Linked DNA regions of Homo sapiens: region 1 is linked to region 2. The links come from fine-mapping of genetic effects on gene expression. A gene starts in region 2. The other region holds a variant in brackets. All regions are shown on one strand. Distances are between the middles of the regions. Region 1 overlaps CDH23 (cadherin related 23). Region 2 holds the start of C10orf105 (chromosome 10 open reading frame 105).

The links.
Region 1: its variant is fine-mapped to the expression of C10orf105 in whole blood (INTERVAL, PIP above 0.99).

What each region holds. Positions count from the first base shown.
Region 1 is chr10:71,746,217-71,754,216 of GRCh38, forward strand. All of the region lies in intron 38 of CDH23 (cadherin related 23), which reads left to right. VSIR (V-set immunoregulatory receptor) reads right to left here. Exons shown (of 7, transcript NM_022153.2): 5 at 6,759-6,786; 6 at 5,452-5,645; 7 at 1,340-5,074. The coding sequence ends at 5,037. Among named protein-coding and RNA genes, the nearest start is that of VSIR, 23 kb to the right of the region's middle. RefSeq lists enhancers at 1,782-1,991, 2,377-2,426, 2,627-2,756. The variant G/T (reference allele first, on the strand shown) is at 4,496.
Region 2 is chr10:71,715,135-71,723,134 of GRCh38, forward strand. C10orf105 (chromosome 10 open reading frame 105) reads right to left here and starts at 4,644. Exons shown (of 2, transcript NM_001164375.3): 1 at 4,493-4,644; 2 at 1-1,208. The coding sequence starts at 1,203. The coding sequence ends at 802. The region is part of intron 28 of CDH23 (cadherin related 23); the gene reads left to right. RefSeq lists a silencer at 1,919-2,116 and an enhancer at 4,033-4,781.

The sequences.
Region 1 (8,000 bases), 31 kb after region 2:
CATCATTTGCATCCCTGTTTTGAAAGATGTGGCTCCCTAAGCAGGGGGCCTGAGATTTGGCTGCTAAGACCCTCCCCAGAGCCAAGAGAAATTCTCTGAGTCCCTCCAGCTCTACTTTTCTCCCTGAGACCCTCGTCCCCCCAGGTTCCTGAGAGCTGGACATTCCTGCAAACAGCCTAGGCCACCCCCATCCGGCCTCAGCCCATATCACCCGAACTCGGAACAGCTGTGCTGCAAGGGGTATCTGGGCCAGACCCAGGCCCGCCACACAATGGTGTGCCACTGGCCGGGGGAGTCATTGTGGAGCCTCAGCCCCTGCCTAGCTCCAGGCCATGGGAAGACAGGCCAGGCTTGGGGGAGGGGTTTAAGTGGTTGTCAGGGAGGCCCCTGCAAAGGAAGAGCTGGGCCCAGGGAGGAAGGGCGGAAGGTAACTGGGAGGTCAGGAGTTAGCCCAACCTCAGAGGCACTTGGCAGTGGGGTGGAGAGGGAGGGAGGGCCTAACTGTGGCCTCCCTGCCACGTGAATTGCAGCCAACCGATACTACTATTCCAGATAAGAAGCCCTGGCTTCTCAGGCTGGTGAGGACCTGCAGAAGTCACCTATCCAGGCAGAAGGACAGAAATCTCCCACCGCCCCCTTCTGGTATGCAAGTCCCCAGCAGCGGCCCCGTGACGGTCTATGAGCTGGGGACACTGCTCTTGGCAGTACACCTCATGTCTTTAGAGCAGAGGCCCCTTCTGTTTATTAGACTTGGACCCTGCTATTGTGAACTCTGCTTCCCCTGGCTTGAGATCAGAAGGTCCCAGCCTGGCCCTCACCCTCTGTGGCACCAAGAAGGCTGGCCTTCCCTGACCCAGCACAAGTACATCCAGACCCTTCCCTTGGCCTGGCTTCTTGAGGGATGTTCCACAGCTGCCCAGATGCTCCACATACAACTGGCTAAGTTCCTCCAAGAGACCCTGGGGCTCAGCTGCTGAGGGTTTCTCCCTTCCCCATCCCCTAATGCAAGCAAGAGGGGTGCATGGGCCACTGTGCCTATCAGGAGTCCTCTAGCTCCACAGTTGGCAGGCAGAAAAGGGAGTGGCAGGAGCTGATATGGAAGGAGCCTACCCATCAGCAGCAGCGTCTTCTGGACCCAGAAGAAGGCCCAGGCCAGGGCAGGCAGAGCACAGATAGGAACGTTTCTGGTGTGCAGTACAGTGGAGCCCTGGACCTGTGGGCACAAGTTCATCTCCCAGAGCCCTTGTATGTGCTCTAAGCAAGTCCAAGGTGAAGGCCAAGCCAGGCCCTGGCCCATAATACCAATCCATTCAGTGAGGAGGAAGCAGGAGACCCAGGGTTTAGTCGTAGTTCCACCGTTTACTTGTTTTGACAAGACACAGACCTTTCAGAACCTCTATTGCCCTCTGTGTTAAATGGCAGCAATAAAACCTCCCAGGATTTTCAGGGAAGGGGGTGGATCAAACAAGTTACAACACATGTGAAAGTGTGTTGGAAAGCACCAAGTATTCTAACAGAAAAGGCCAAGAAACAGCATGCATGCTGCCACTTCCCTCTCCCGTGCCCAAGGCAGACATGGCTATCTATCTCGGCACTGTCTCACCAAGCTATATTGATCATTCAGAATCCCTCTCAACACATTCCAGGATAGTTAGGGTGACATAGCCTCCATGGGGTGAAGAGAAGCAGCAATGCAAAGCAGGGAATGCCCAGGGAATGGGCCAGGTGGCCTGTGCCGTCTATGGGCTGGGCCTCATGCTCAGCTGGGCTGTGGCTGGGCTTCAAGAGGCCTTTGTTCCCAGCATCCTGGTTAGCAACCCCAGTTCCTCTTTCGTGCATTGTGGTTCCCTGAGAAAACGTTAACCCAGCCCCCAGCACAGTCAGGCCAGCCCTGGGGAAGGCCTCATTCATGAGGCAGGACCCCAGGGGCCAAGTTGGTGCTCGGTGGTGGCAGGACCCCTGCAGCCCCCTGTCCCACTGCACACTCCCAAGTCCACCCCGCGAGGAGCACCCCCTGAAAAAGGCCATGTATCAGCCCCTCTGCCCTGGGCCACTGCATGTAGTGGGAGCTCTGGTCAGGCAGAAGTCTTTTGAAAAGCAGGTCCTGGGGCTCCTGCACCTCCACCCCAGCGCCCATCGCCACGGACTCCCCCAGGCAGGGCCAGCCTGCCCACCAGCAGTCACCAGTGGCCTCCATGGTGTGTTTTTAGGGAGTGCTGAGCAGTCCCCGCTGTGTCAGCAAAACCCTCCAAATGGTGCTTTCAATTCCATTCCTTCAGCCTCTCCCTGGGAGGGAATAAAGGCAGGAAGTCTCTATTAAACTGTGAATGTCAGGAGATAGGTAAGATGGCCCCTAATTCCTGATTGATCTCCTAACAATGAATTAGTTCTTAAAAGCATGGATTTCCCTCTCAGGGCCTCAGACTGTGCCACGAATCCAGCGCTCCAGGAGCCTCCTGCCCCAGCCCCTAGTGCTCCTCCCGCCCCCTGGAGGCGCCATGTTCTCGCACCCAGCTCTCCCATGCACCCCAGCCCACAGCCACCAGGGCTGGCATCAGAGGCACTACCATCCCGGGCAACTCAGAGGGCGGCTCCAGCAGCCTGCCCCTCCCCAGCAGCAGCAGGGAGGGACGTCCCTAGTGCGTTGTAGGCAGGGCCTGTGGCCATGGATGAAGATGGAACTGGGAGCTCAGAGTAAATTTCGCTGAAAACAGGAAACCACGAAGCCCAGATGCGTTCAGTTGTAAAAGGGTCCAGAGAAGAGAGGGCAGGGCCGCACCAGAGGAAGCTGAGGAGGAAGTGCGGTGGCTGTTCTGCTGCGGGCCGCCTCCCTCTCCACACAGCAGCAGCCAGGCCTGGGGTCTGGCAGCCAAATTCTTAGAAGTTGTCTCTGCCTCAAGGTCAGCAGCTGAGGGCTGGGGCCAGGCCAGCCTCCCCAGAGGGCAGGGCATGCTCTTCCTGAGTTGGGAGAACCGGAATCTGGGCTGTGGGCTTGTCCTTCGACTCCAGGAACAGCAGGTGTCCTGTCCCCACTCCTGCCATGCAGGCCCCCATGAATTGTGAAAAACATACCCTCTTTCCTTCTTTCTTTCTTTTTAAAATTTGTTTTGAGGCAAAGTTTTGCTCCGTCCCCAGGCTGGAGTGTAGTGGCTCGAACACAGCTCACAGCAGCCTTGAACACCTGGGCTTAAGCGGTCCTTCCACCTCAGCCCTGCAAAGTGCTGGGAGGACAGGTGTGTGCCACCATGGCCAGCCAGCACCCTCTTCCTATGGCAGCTGGCATCAAGCATTGTGGTGACCAGAGGGAACAAAAGAAGGGACCCCCCTCTGCCTAGGGACAAGGGAGAAGCCGGGGTTTGGGCATATTCTGGCCACTCGAGGTGTCAGCCCCATCTCCGGGCCTATGTTTACCCTCTCCTCAAAGCCCCTGGCCCAGCCCAGGCAGAGCAGGAGGCCCTCAGTGGACCATTCCTTTGGGCCTAACTGGGGGGCTTAGAAGCAGGGCCATGTGTCCAGGTGGGGTTCCCTGGCTGTAGCCACAGGCCCAGGGCTCACTGCTGCCAGGCAGCCTAGAGGTGCTCCCCTTTTCCATCCCCCCAACCCCCCAAGCAATTGGGCGAACATCTTCCCGCCTAGCCCCAAATCCTGGCTTTCAGCACCCAGGCCCAGCTCAGCAGAGCCAGTGTAGGCTGCTAGGAGACAAATGCCCAGGCTGGACTATGCTCTCCACAGTACCTGGGGCCCCCATCCTGCTAAACGCTACAGGGGGTCTGCCCAGCCCCACCTCACCTGTCCCCATGCTCAGGCACTGCCTTCCCTGTTTTACCCCCAGAGTGTACAGAGATGCCCCCTACTCTCCTCCCCTGCTTTAAAATCCTTCAATCACAATTCCACAGAGGACTCACCTTGCCTATGTGTATAAAAACAAAGCCAGGGCATGCCCACAAGCAGGAGATGGGAACATCACCCGCACCTGGCCGAATGGCTCTGAAGCGAAGACTCCACCAGGCCCAGATTGTATGGAGTGGAAGGTGGGGGTGGGGGAGGAGCAGCAGAGTGCAGATTTAAACTGGCTCTTACAATCCATCTCCAGGGTTTGCACCTGTTTCCCCATGTAGTTTTTAATAGCATCCCGCTTCATACTCAGAAGTGTCCCAGGGTGGACAAGACATTGTGTGGCACCCTTGCAATGGCCCGCGCTGAGCAGTGGGAGTAGGGGATGGGGAGGGCGGGGGGCAGGTGCCCCTCTCCACTCACCTTCCCAGAAGGCCCCACCCACCTCCCTCAGCACCATCTCCAGTGGGTGGGGCAACATCTGTCCTGGCCTCAGATTGCCCAAGACACCATTTGCTCACGGAGGCCACCATGCCCCAATATGTACTTCCCGTTTCGGGACCACCAAGCTCTGGGGACTGGAATGCAGGCAGTGGAAGCCCCAGATTGACTTAACCTGTTGACAGATCTTCAGAGAAACTGCTGGTAGGAGGCAGCTGGG[G/T]AAGGTGGCGATGGCCAGTGGGCAGGCAGGCCTGGCCCCAGAGCCACTGTGGTACAAAGAGGAAGTCTGACAGAAGAGCAGCCTCGGGCAAAACGGGGGAGCCAAGGCGGCCACGGGGGAGAAGTCTCTCCACCGTGCCCTGTGTCTGGTGCCTGGGAGGGTGGCCCAGTGTCCATCTTGTCCCACTGATGCTGCCACATCCCAAGGCTCATGTCTCAGAACGAGAGCTGCTGAAGGGCTGGACGTTCTGAGACTTCTTAAGATGTAAGTCATTTGGCATCTGTAGCTGGTGAATTTCAGGTCTCTAGGGGAGAATCTCAGCACCCCAAAATCCTTGGAACAGGGGCTGAGCCGTCCAGCATCCCCATGTAGCATCCAGAGGGGTTGAGGGGCTGGGCTTCTGGGATGTCACAGTATCTGAGCCCAGAGCAGGAGGGAGGGAACCAGGGCCGAGGCCAAGGAGGCCACTCACAGAGCCAGCCCTGGCTCAAATGCACCTGCCCCAGACCCAGCCACAACAGCCCACTGTCCCCCAGCTGGGCTAGATGACCTCAAAGTTTGGAGAGTCAGGGACAGGGTCTGCAAGAAAAGGAGAAGCAAAGTGAACGGGGCCCCTCTGCCCCTCACCCTCAACCCCACCCCGTGAGGCCGTGGAACTCTTCAGGGAGGTGAATGGGGGCCCCTCTGTCCCTCACCCTCAACCCCACCCCGTGAGGCCGTGGAACTCTTCAGGGAGGTGAATGGGGGCCCCTCTGTCCCTCACCCTCAACCCCACCCCGTGAGGCCGTGGAACTCTTCAGGGAGGTGAATGGGGGCCCCTCTGTCCCTCACCCTCAACCCCACCCCGTGAGGCCGTGGAACTCTTCAGGGAGGGCAGGGAGTGAGGCCGATGCCCTGCAGGCCATGAGGTCATGACCTTACAGGTCATCGTGCTGTGAAGGTCAGGAAACACTTACCCAGGGATGGGAAGAAGACGTCTCCGGGGCCTGGAGGAGACAGGGGGGTGCTGGGCTCCGAAAGCAGATGCCGCCCAGACTCAGAAGGCTGCCGCTGGGCCACATAGGACAGGGGGTGCCTGACTTTGGCCTCGGGTATCCCCTGGGCAGGTGGTGAGGCTTCAAAGCCGGGGTTTTCAATCCCTTGAATGTTGCTGCCACAGAACCAGAATGGAAGGTCATCTGTGCTGTCCGGAGCGTGAACTCTGCCCTCCCTGCCCCCAGTTTTTCTCTCCTCCCTTTCTCTCACCTACATCCCCATCCCCAAGCCTCAGCAGCATCTCCAAGCAAGAAGGCAGGAGCCAGGCCCACAGAGCAAAGGCCATGGGCTGCACCTGCCCACCTGTCCTGAGCTGAGGGCATCAGGGCCCACCAGAACAGACCCCAGCTCCTCCCTGTGGTCTGACCATCAACCCCGGGCACAGCCAGGAAGCCAAAAATCACAGACACTTCTAGAACTTCAGCCTCAGGAATTTGGGGACAAGTTTCTCTTTGGTCAATAGAGTTGATGGCATTAGGATCGAACATCCCCAAAGCCTGTCTTGAGCTGAGGGGAGGGGTTCTCTTCTCTTCCCAGTTGGGAGTGGGATAACTTCTGAAGACCCCTGCAACTCTTAGATTCTAGATGAGTTGCAAGCAGGACTTCCTTCAACCTGTCTTGAAGATCATCCCTTTCAAACACCTAGAGGAGCTTTGTGTTTGGTGTTGCAGGTACCGGGGCAGGAACTTGGGTTCCCTGAACACACCCTCCAGGCCAGGCTGCATGGCAGCTTCCTGCCCAGAGCACACCAATACACAGTCCCCATCCCCTCTGCCCCTAGACCCAGCCCACTGCACCACTCTGGGACCCCTCAGCCTCTGCCCTTGTGGCCTGCAGCGGCCTAACAGCTTTCTCCTTGGAGTTCTCTGCGGGCAGGAGGCACAGCTCAAGGGCTGTGGCTGGGGCTGGGCCCGCTGGCCTCCTTTGCATGTCTCACTGTCTGCCCCAGACAGTGCTTCCTCCCTGTCCCCATCCTGGCCCAGGCTGACCACTGAGACCCGAAGGTGGGTGCATGACACATCTGAGCAGAATCAGAGCTCAGCCTGCTGAGTCGGGGTGGCAGGAGAACAGCCAATCTGCACAGATGTGCAGGCTTCAGCAGCAGATGGCAGAGGCTCTTCTGACCAGCTGCTCTAGGCAGCTAAACAGGGCCCCTACTGCACAGAAGTATCTCTTCCTGGATAGCCGGCCCAGGAAGTTTTCTCAAGAAGGTCTCCATGGGCCTTACCTGTCCATCCGCACCAGCTCCTGGGCACCTAGGGACAGACAGACAGAGAAGCTGGTCATGGAAGGGAAGGCTTCCCCATACAACATCCCTGCCCCTGCTGGCAGATGCCCTGCAGGGAACAGGAGCGAGCCCAGGAGGGCCCTGCACAGCTCCGGACTCCATTTCTTTTCACATGGGTGCTGTCCAGCAAGCGATCTGCGTGTCTGTCCAGCAGATGGGGCCTCCATGAGGGGCCCATTTTGACGACTGATAAATGAAACTCTATCTGCATTTTCCAGGAGTGTAAGAACGCTATCTGCCATCAGGAGACCAAAGGCAGCCAGCGCTTTCTCCTATGGCTTGACTTACACAGTGTCAGACCTTCAGGATTTAAGTATCGAGCAAAGGTCAACTCTTGAATTTGCTAACTGGTGTCTCTTGTTTGAACATTTGCCAGGTTCTGGTCTTTAGCCATGACTTACTGGGTGGGAGTGTTTAAGGTCAGTTCCTAATTAGAGGGCTCCTGGTCCTCTCTGTCCTATCCCCTACATTGCCTAATAGGGTGGCATTCTAGGGGACATCTCTCAGGGAAACCTTACAAGGTGCAAGTCCCCGATCACTTCCCAGCCACTTCACTCACTTTCTGCTTCTCATCCAAGTTGCTGCCGCTTGCCTCAGCCTTGGGACACCCCACCCCCCAAACTGGCCACCAATTAGATGCAGTGACCCCAACTTCCCTCTTTCATGCAGCACCCCATGTCCTCCCACAGATGCTTCTCGTTTTAAGGAGATTTACTGCTGATTACGATGGGGAAACAGATGGTGGGGGAGGGGCACAACAACAGAACAAACACAGGGAAGTTACCCAAAAGTTCCTGAAATCTATTCAAACCATGGCTATTGCTTACAGCCGACTCATGGGTCAGGCTTCGTGCAGGTGCACACGGGTATTCCCTCATCTCATCCTCTGTGCCACCCTTTGGGGTGAGGGTTGTTGGTCCCATTTTAGAGCTGGGGAAACTGAGGCTCAGTCCAAAGCAGGATGGAAATCCACACCTGTTGGCCTCTCCAGCAAACTGCCGTCCTCAAGGCTCCCAGCCCTTTCCTTTTCTTTTTTTCCTGAGAGTGCCTCATTCCTGAGCAGGCTCTCTGGGCCAGCCTTCCACCAGGGAGGGCACAGCAACACCTGCTCCCCCTGCCCTGCTGCCCAGCGTTGCTCTTCTGTTCCAAGCCCTTTACCTGCCCCCACCCACCCCCAGCCAT
Region 2 (8,000 bases):
CCTCCGAGTCCAGGTGGCATCACCTCCAGCTGCTGGAAATGCCCTGCCTCTTGCCACTCTGTCACAGCACCCGCCCTGGCCTCTGAAGGGAGCCTCCTCGATCATCTTCAATCCCTTCCTGATTGATCCCAACGTGGGTGCCCTGAAGAGGGGCCACCAAGACGGCTGCCAAGACCATGCTTGGAGAGCCCTGTTTGCTCCTCCTCCCAGCTGGCACCCAGGCATCTGTTCCACCAGGAGGGAGGCAGCTGCTCCCACAGGGCACCAGGCAGATGCTGGCAGCACCCGGGAAACCCAAGGAAGAGAGCCCCGAGGTTTTGCCCCAGCACTGGGCCAGCACAGATGCCAGGACAGTGTCTTGGCCCCGGTGTAGGCTGAGCATTTCACTTGACTAAAGGGAACCTTTGCCATTTGGCAACTTCTCCATGCTGGGCTTTGGCACCTGGAGGGCAAGGCTTCTGTGGCGAGCGAGGGTGCTGCTTCTAGGAGGTGGTTACGAGCCCCAGGTTGTACCCTGTGGAGCCTCAGGCCAAAGGCCCAGATGACCACGAGTGCACATCTCTTGACCAGAAGTCTTTCATCAAGCAGCAGCGAGGGGGTCTGCAGAGAGGAAGGTGCTCTTCTGAGGATCATCTTTGGGAAAGGGCGCTGGCCTGGGCATGCAAGGAGCTTCGGGGGGTGAGTGTGTGTCCCAGACTGCTTGGGCCACTGTCTTCCTGCAGCCTGCAGCACCGGTCTCTGAAGCAGGAGGATCTACAGGTAGACCTAGGGGGATGTGGGGGCATGTTTGTGGACACCCCATTACATCTTGGTAGATTCCATGTAGTCACAGTGGCTGCGGTTGTCCTCGGGGCCCGGCAGGGGCTGTCGAGGGACGGTGGGCCGGCCATGGCGGAAGCTGTGCAGGGAGAGGCGCAAGGAGCCCAGGCGCTTCCAGAGCCGGAGCTGGGGCTCACTGGGGCTCCCAGGGTGGTGGGGCATGCACTCGTGAGCCCTGCGGCGGCTCGGGTCCAGCGCGGCCGGCTTGCAGAGCGTCATGAACAGCAGACAGGTGGCCAGCAGGAGGAAGATGCAGGCCAGGGCGATGAGCATGGGGAGGGGGTCAGTTGCCTCTGCAAGGGTCCCGGGAGTGACGGGAGCTGAGAGAAAGGCGAGGGGGCTGATGGCTGGGGAGCTGGCGAGGCTGGGGCCCTCTGTGCTCATGGCTCCTGCAACAGCAACAAGACAGAAGCTCAAAGGCAGATCAGCTGGACCCAGGGCAGCGGGTATAGGGAAGACTTACCTAGGGAATGTGGATGGGGGCAAGGCACTGTTAAACTGGACAGCATCATGGCCACATCACAGGTTAAGACAGCAAGGTCCAGAGACATCACAAGTCTAAGTGTACACACAGCTGAGCAGTGATGGAGCTGGGCCCAAGCTCAGGCCCTCTTCCTGTTCCACCCTGTGCCCATCTGCCATGCAGACAAGAGGGCGGTGGCCTGTCCGCATTTTCAAATCAATCCTCATGAATCATCACAGGGTCTTAGGCCTGGAAACTTAAGACCAACTCTGTCAATAACTTGCTCTGTGGCCAGGAACGAGTTATGGATGGTAAGAGGCCGCAGCTGCCAGGGTCCCTAGCAGTAATCTAATACCAAAGCTGCAAACTGGGGGCCCACGGGTGTGTTTAGTTGGGTCCTTGCCATGTTTTTATCAATGTAATTATGAATATTTTCAAAATAATAACAGATTTCACAAAAATATATGGGTGCCTGAATTCTCTTGAAATGTCAGAATTTCACCACTGGCATTGGCCCATGTTCCTGCCTCATCCCTGTGTCTGGGGCTGAGCAGCCGCTGCCCCCTGTAGACAGGGCACTGACCTCCAGCTCCCCACCCTCCCCCACAGGCCCACCACACACCTTATTTCACCTGCCTGGCCCCGTGGGGATTCCTGTGACTGCTTCCCCATGCAGTCCAACTTGCTCCCACGACAGGTGGGAAACTGAGGTCCGAAGAGGGGATTTGGCATTAGGGAGCCAGTGAAGGTTTTAGAGGTGGGGAGTGACAAGCCAGAGCTCACTCCTTGGGAAGGCTTGGCTGGCTGCATTGTGGGTCACAGTAGGGTGGGGTGGGGCAGCTTGGTGGTGGGAAGGCCAAGGCCACATTGTGAGCCAATGGCCAAGTGAAGGTCAGAAGCAGGTCTCCTGACTCCTGGCCCCATGGCCTTGCCACCCCTCTGGCCCCCAGCCCTTTCGGAGCTCAGTGAGCTGCTCTGGGAACAGGTGGGAAATAAACCCACAAGGAGTTGACAAGGGGGCTGGAAACCCCCCAGGGACATCATACACCTGACAGGGCATTTCCTTTCCCACTGAAGATCATCCCATTAGACGCAGTGCAGCAGACGGTCCTTGTCGATGGAAAACCAGGCTGAGCTTTTGGCTCAATATGTCTGGGGTTGTAATAAAAATGCTCACAGATCCTGGCCAGCAGATAACACATGACCAGAGGGTACAGATGAGCAGGGCCACCTGGAGAGCACTGGCTGGGCCCTCTCAAGGAAGTGGAGGGGCCTCAGCCCAGAATGGTGCTGTCAGTGCCGGAGTGCAGGCCCAGTGTGGTCAGCTCTGTCAGTTTCCCAAGAGAAGCCAGAAATCTGGATTTTTTTAAAGGCAAACATTCTAGACGTTTAAATGTTGGCAGCTAATTCAAATTTGTTGAAGGCAAGAAAGAAGAGAGGTGGGGTGGGGGAGAACACAGCAAAAGCCAAATAAACTTGATTTCAAAATAATGTGAAATGAATTTTCAAATATTTGAAACACTACACAGGCCAAACCAAACACATAAGCAGAGGACGTCCAGCTTGCAGGTCAGCATGTGTGATATTTAAATTCTACTGACGTGGACAAGCAATCCCAGGGGGTCTGATAAAAAGTCATGATTTCCCTTTAACCTTGGGGTCTTTCCTTTTCATGAGGGTGGGGGATAGCAGATTTTCCTCCTTCCCAGCTTGCAGCTTAGATAACAGTTGAGTTTCTAGCACGGAAGCTCAGGAGGAGGAAAGATGTCAGGTCACGCTCAGAGAAACCCTGCCACAGGTAGTGGGGAGGGGAGTGGGCCACCTAGTTCCCCACCCGAGGGACTCCTGTCCCTACCCCAGGCACTCACCAGCAGCCGCAGGACCTCACTCCTGGCTCCCTGCGCCCAGCCAACTGAGGGCATGCAGAGCACCCCACCTCCCACCCATTCCCCACCACCACCCCTCCCAGCACTTCCAGGCAGAAAACGACCCCTCCCAGTGCCTGGCTGGAAAGTGTGATGCCCGTCTAGCTGCCCAGGGCCTCCGCCTTTGCGGCATCAGGCCTAGAGAGCACTCTGGCTGGGCAGCTGTGCATGGGTTGGCCTTTCCTTGAGTCTGAGCAGGGAGGAGGGATGGGGTGTGCCCACCGCTCATTCCCGTGGGGAGAAAATCAGCCATCCCTCTCTCCTACCCTGGACAATGCTTGGCCAGGAGTAAGAAAAGGGCAGTCTGAAATGGGAGATGCCTCAATCCTACTAGTTCTAATGTTATTTCAAGGCCTTCAAAGGAATCTGGAGACCCTACTGGGCTAGCAAATAGGATCCAGGCTTCAGGCCTTGGGACCTGCTTTAATTTAAAAAATAAGTGAGGCCAGGCGTGTTGGCTCTCACCTGTAATCCCAGCACTTTGGGAGGCCAAGGCAGGAGGATCACTTGAGCCCAGGAGTTTGAGAACAGCCTGGGCAACATAGTGAGTCTTCATTTCTGAAAGAAAAAAAAAAAAGGTTTTTTAATTAGCCAGGTGTGGTAGTATGTGCCTGTGGCCCCAGCTACTCAGGAGGCTGAGGCAGAAGGATCATTTGAGCCCAAAAGTTTGAGGCTACAGCGAGCTAGAATCATGCCACTGCGCTACAGCCTGAGCGACAGAGCAACACTCTGTCTCAAAAAAATAAAAAATAAAAAAAAAATAAGTGGAGTTGTAATTAGCATCTGAGTAGTTCCTGTGGCAACGAGAGATTCCTAAGTGCTTGAAAACAACACAACACCCTTCCTGGAGCACGAGGCAAGTCCAGCTGCCAGGCCCCTTGACACCCGGCTACTGACCAACCAGCAAAGGCCAGCTAGTACTGGGAGAGGATGCCTTGCCCGGACCAAGGCCAGGAATCATCTGGAGGGCAGTTGAAGCCACTCCCTTCCCACTGGGGCCAGGGTGCACCAGCGGGCCCTGCTCTGGACATATCTCTGCAAGCTCAGTCTAGGACCCTCCTCTTCCCTTGGAGTTCCACAGAGCAGGACCTGCTGTGGGCAGAGAAGACTGCTGTGTGGCCTCGGGCTAGTCCCTACCCCTTACTGGGCCTTGTTTCCCCTCTCTACAGAACCAGAGGACTGCCTAGGTCTGAGCATACCCTCACATTCTCCCAGGAGTCCCCAGCAAGGGTCTCCACCACACTTCCCTCTCCAAGCCTTCTCCTGCAGTCCCCCAAGCACTGACCTCAGAGCCAGACCCCAGCCGTCCGGAGCTCCGTGGAGAGGTCTTCTCAGCTGTGGAAGGGAGGCCCAAGGAGCCCTGGGCAGTGCCTGTGACCCCAGCCCTGCCAGGCTCTGCTGTGCCCTGCAGCCCTCGGTCAGCCTGGCCAGCAGAGTGGCCTCCCCGTCACTCCCCAGCTGGACCTGGCTTTGTCTAGAAGAGTTTGGGCCCTGCCTTGGGGGAGGGGATAGCTAAGGGAGTAGGGATGGCAACTGGGTTGGGAAGAGGGAGAGGGGAGCTGTCCAGAGACTCTGGGATGCCCCCTGGCCTTCCCACCGCCTCTCTCCAGCCTGTCTCCTTGGAGCCCTCTCAGGGGTGGAAGACTCTGGGGAGACGCAGGGGGAGGGTTTTACTGCCTCTGCGGCCCCATGGCGCTCACCTTCCCCTGTCGGAAGTTTGAATGGTATGGTCGGCGGCAGCCAGAGGTTCGCTATTCAGTGCCTGCCAGCCACCAGGTTACCCTGGAGAGGGGCTACAAGCCATGGCAGGAGGGGAGCAGGGAGAGTGCTGGTCCCTGGCAGCCCCTGAGGCCCCTCCTGCAGCGTCCCTGGGCCCCATTCCTTCCAGGCTTTTCCCTCAGCTTGTAGAAAAGCACCTTCCCTTTGAAGGTGTCTGGCTACAGAAGCGAGGGGTGAGGGGCATCTTCAAAGGTCAGGGGGATCCCAGGGCAGAAAGCATAGGACTGACGGACCTCCAAGGCCATGCTCCCCACAGTGCGGGTGGGCCACGGGAGACCTCCACTGGAGGCTCTTTCCAAAACACACACACACACACACACACACACACACTTCCCTCCCCCAGCCTTCTTTCTCCCCAGAAGCCAGAGCTTCCCTGACAACCAGCTGCCTGCTTAGGAGCCCAAGTCTTTGGCAGCTTCCCCACCAGGGACCTCCAAGCTCCCAGAAATGCAACTCAAGACAGGAGTCATGGCCCTGTCCAAGACCTGAGCCTCAGACCCATTCCCTTTTTTGGAGCCCCAGTTTCTGGTTTTTAGCTGTTCCCTCCTGCCCTTGCCCATAAAAAGAGGCACTGTCTGCCAACCCCAAGATGGACAAGAGATTTCCTATGGACTGTTAAAGCTGGAGAGGTCCTCAGGGGTCATCTAACTCCTCTTCTGAGAGAAAAGAGCCCCCGTCTTCTCTCAGATGACCAAACTGAGGCCCAGAGAGGTGTGACCTGCCCAGGGGCACCCAGCAAGTGAGTGGTGGGGGACTTGGTGTTTCCCCTGTGCTGGGTGGGCAGGGGCAGGCAGTAGGCATCCAGGGTAGGCAAAGCATCCGGCCCAAAGGTGTTTTCAATGCCCAGAGTCCCCATTGGGATTCCTGCACCTTCCATCACAGCATTCACTGCCTTCATTTTCCTTAACTTCCTCTCCTGAAACCAACTGAACACTTCATCTGTGGCCCCCATTCCTCCTGAGATGACAGAAGACAAAGCTTCCAGGGTGGTGCAGGCTGCTGGAGCAGGGAGGCATCAAGGAAATCTCACCATGGATAGGCATGCAAGGGCATGCTCTGGGCAACGTGGCTCTCTTCACCATCCTGAGCCCTTCCAGATCTGGACAATTGAAGCACCCTGTTACATCCCTCCACCTGCCAGCTCCTAAGGTTTCTCAGGGAATGGAGAGAGAAAGAACTGCACGGCAAGGGGCAATCCAGCCATCCCCAGCTCTGGCATAAATCCAGAGGGCTCTCTGGAGAAGGTGGCATCACTCATGTTGACCTTCACCACACATCCCCATGCTAGGCACCAGCCAAGACGCTTTGCAAGATGACTTCTGATCTTCCCCTCAACCCTGCAAGGCTGGTCATCATTGTGCCCAGTCTAGAGATGAGAAAACTGAGGCTCAAGGGGGCTAAAGTACTTATCCATAGTGCCATAGAGAGTAAGTGACAAAGCCTAAATTCATGCTTGGGTGTGCCTGACCCAGGGCCCTTGTTCTTTTTGCTCCAGTGTACTCGTCCTCCTCCCCACCATCAACATGCTCATCAGAATCCTTAGACACACTTACCGCAGTGCCCGGATGTGCATCGAGGCCAGCGCCTGCTACAGGCTCCTCGCTCTGCCTTCATACCACCATGTCTATACTCCCTGTCCTGTGGAGGTTCCAGGGCATCAGTGCTGCTGATTGAGGCTGTCATTCCACTCTTCCAACCACAGCCCTCTGCTGTCCCTGCATGAGCCCTTCACTCCAGACTGGGGTCCTAGTTCCTTCCTTAGCCTCCCCAGCTGCCTCTACTTCAGCTAACACTGTTTCCCAGCACAAATGTTCTTCCCAACCTTCTCTGCTAAGCCAGGTTTCCTCCATCCTTCCAAACCCAGCTCCCTCCTTTGGAAACCTTCAGCCAATCCCACCTTCACTGCTTTCTTGATCTTTGCTAGCAGGAACCCATCCCCATCTTCTCTGCAGTTTTGTCCAGTGAGCAACGATAGGAAAGCCTACATTAGGGCTTCGGGTGGCAAGAAAGAAAATCCATTCTATATTATCTTAGGCAGGGCCAGACATGGTGGCTCATGCCTGTAATCCCACCACTTTGGGAAGCCAAGGCGGGAGGATTGCTTGAGCTCAGGAGTTCGAGACCAGCCTGGGCAATATAGCAAGACCCTGTCTCTACAAAAAAAATAATAATAATCTAGGCAGAAGGAGAAGTGTACTGTAGCAATACTGGGATACCCTACAGGATCAAAGGAAAAATCAAACAGGGAGCGAGGCACAGATGGGCTCCTGGAATAACTGGGCCCAAGGATGCAAACCAGGGCTGAATGTTGTATGTGTCCTGCATTCGTGCTTACTGAGTGTCAGCCTAGTTCCTCTCCCTGGAGCTCTGCTCCTAAGTCGTTCACATATTTGACCCTACTGTGTGCCAGGATTGTTGTTCCAGAGACCAGGGATATCGCAGTGCACAAAGCCCTTTCTTCCTGTGGGGATATGGGCAATAAGCAAAGATAGCATGTATCAGAGGGTGACCAGGGGTAGGGAAGGCCAGGACATTGGAGTGGGGGCTATAATTTCATATGCAGTGCTCAGGGAGGGTCTTAGGAGAAGATATTTGAACAAAGACCTGAAGGAGATGAGGGCATGAACATGCAAATATCTGGAGGGAGAGCTTGCCAGGAAACAGCCAGGGCAGAAGCCATGAGGCCAGCACACGCTTGGTGTTCAAGAAACAGCCAGGAGACCAGTGTGCCAGGGCAGTTAAGAGGAGAGAGTGGTGGGAAGTGGGGCCCAGGGATGTGCAAGAGAGGGGCTGTTGATATTCCCACATTTTACTGCTAGAAAGACTGACTCAATCTCTCTGGGCCCAAGGTCAACAATCCCAGAGAAGAATGTGATTGGCTCAGCTTTGATCAGGCACCCAGTCCTGGACCAATCCCCTCTGACCGTCTTGGCAGGGTCAGGAAGAAAATGGCAGCTCCCATGCACACCACAGGGCTGAAGTGAGAGGTGGTGAGACAAGAAGGGGCAGACCCA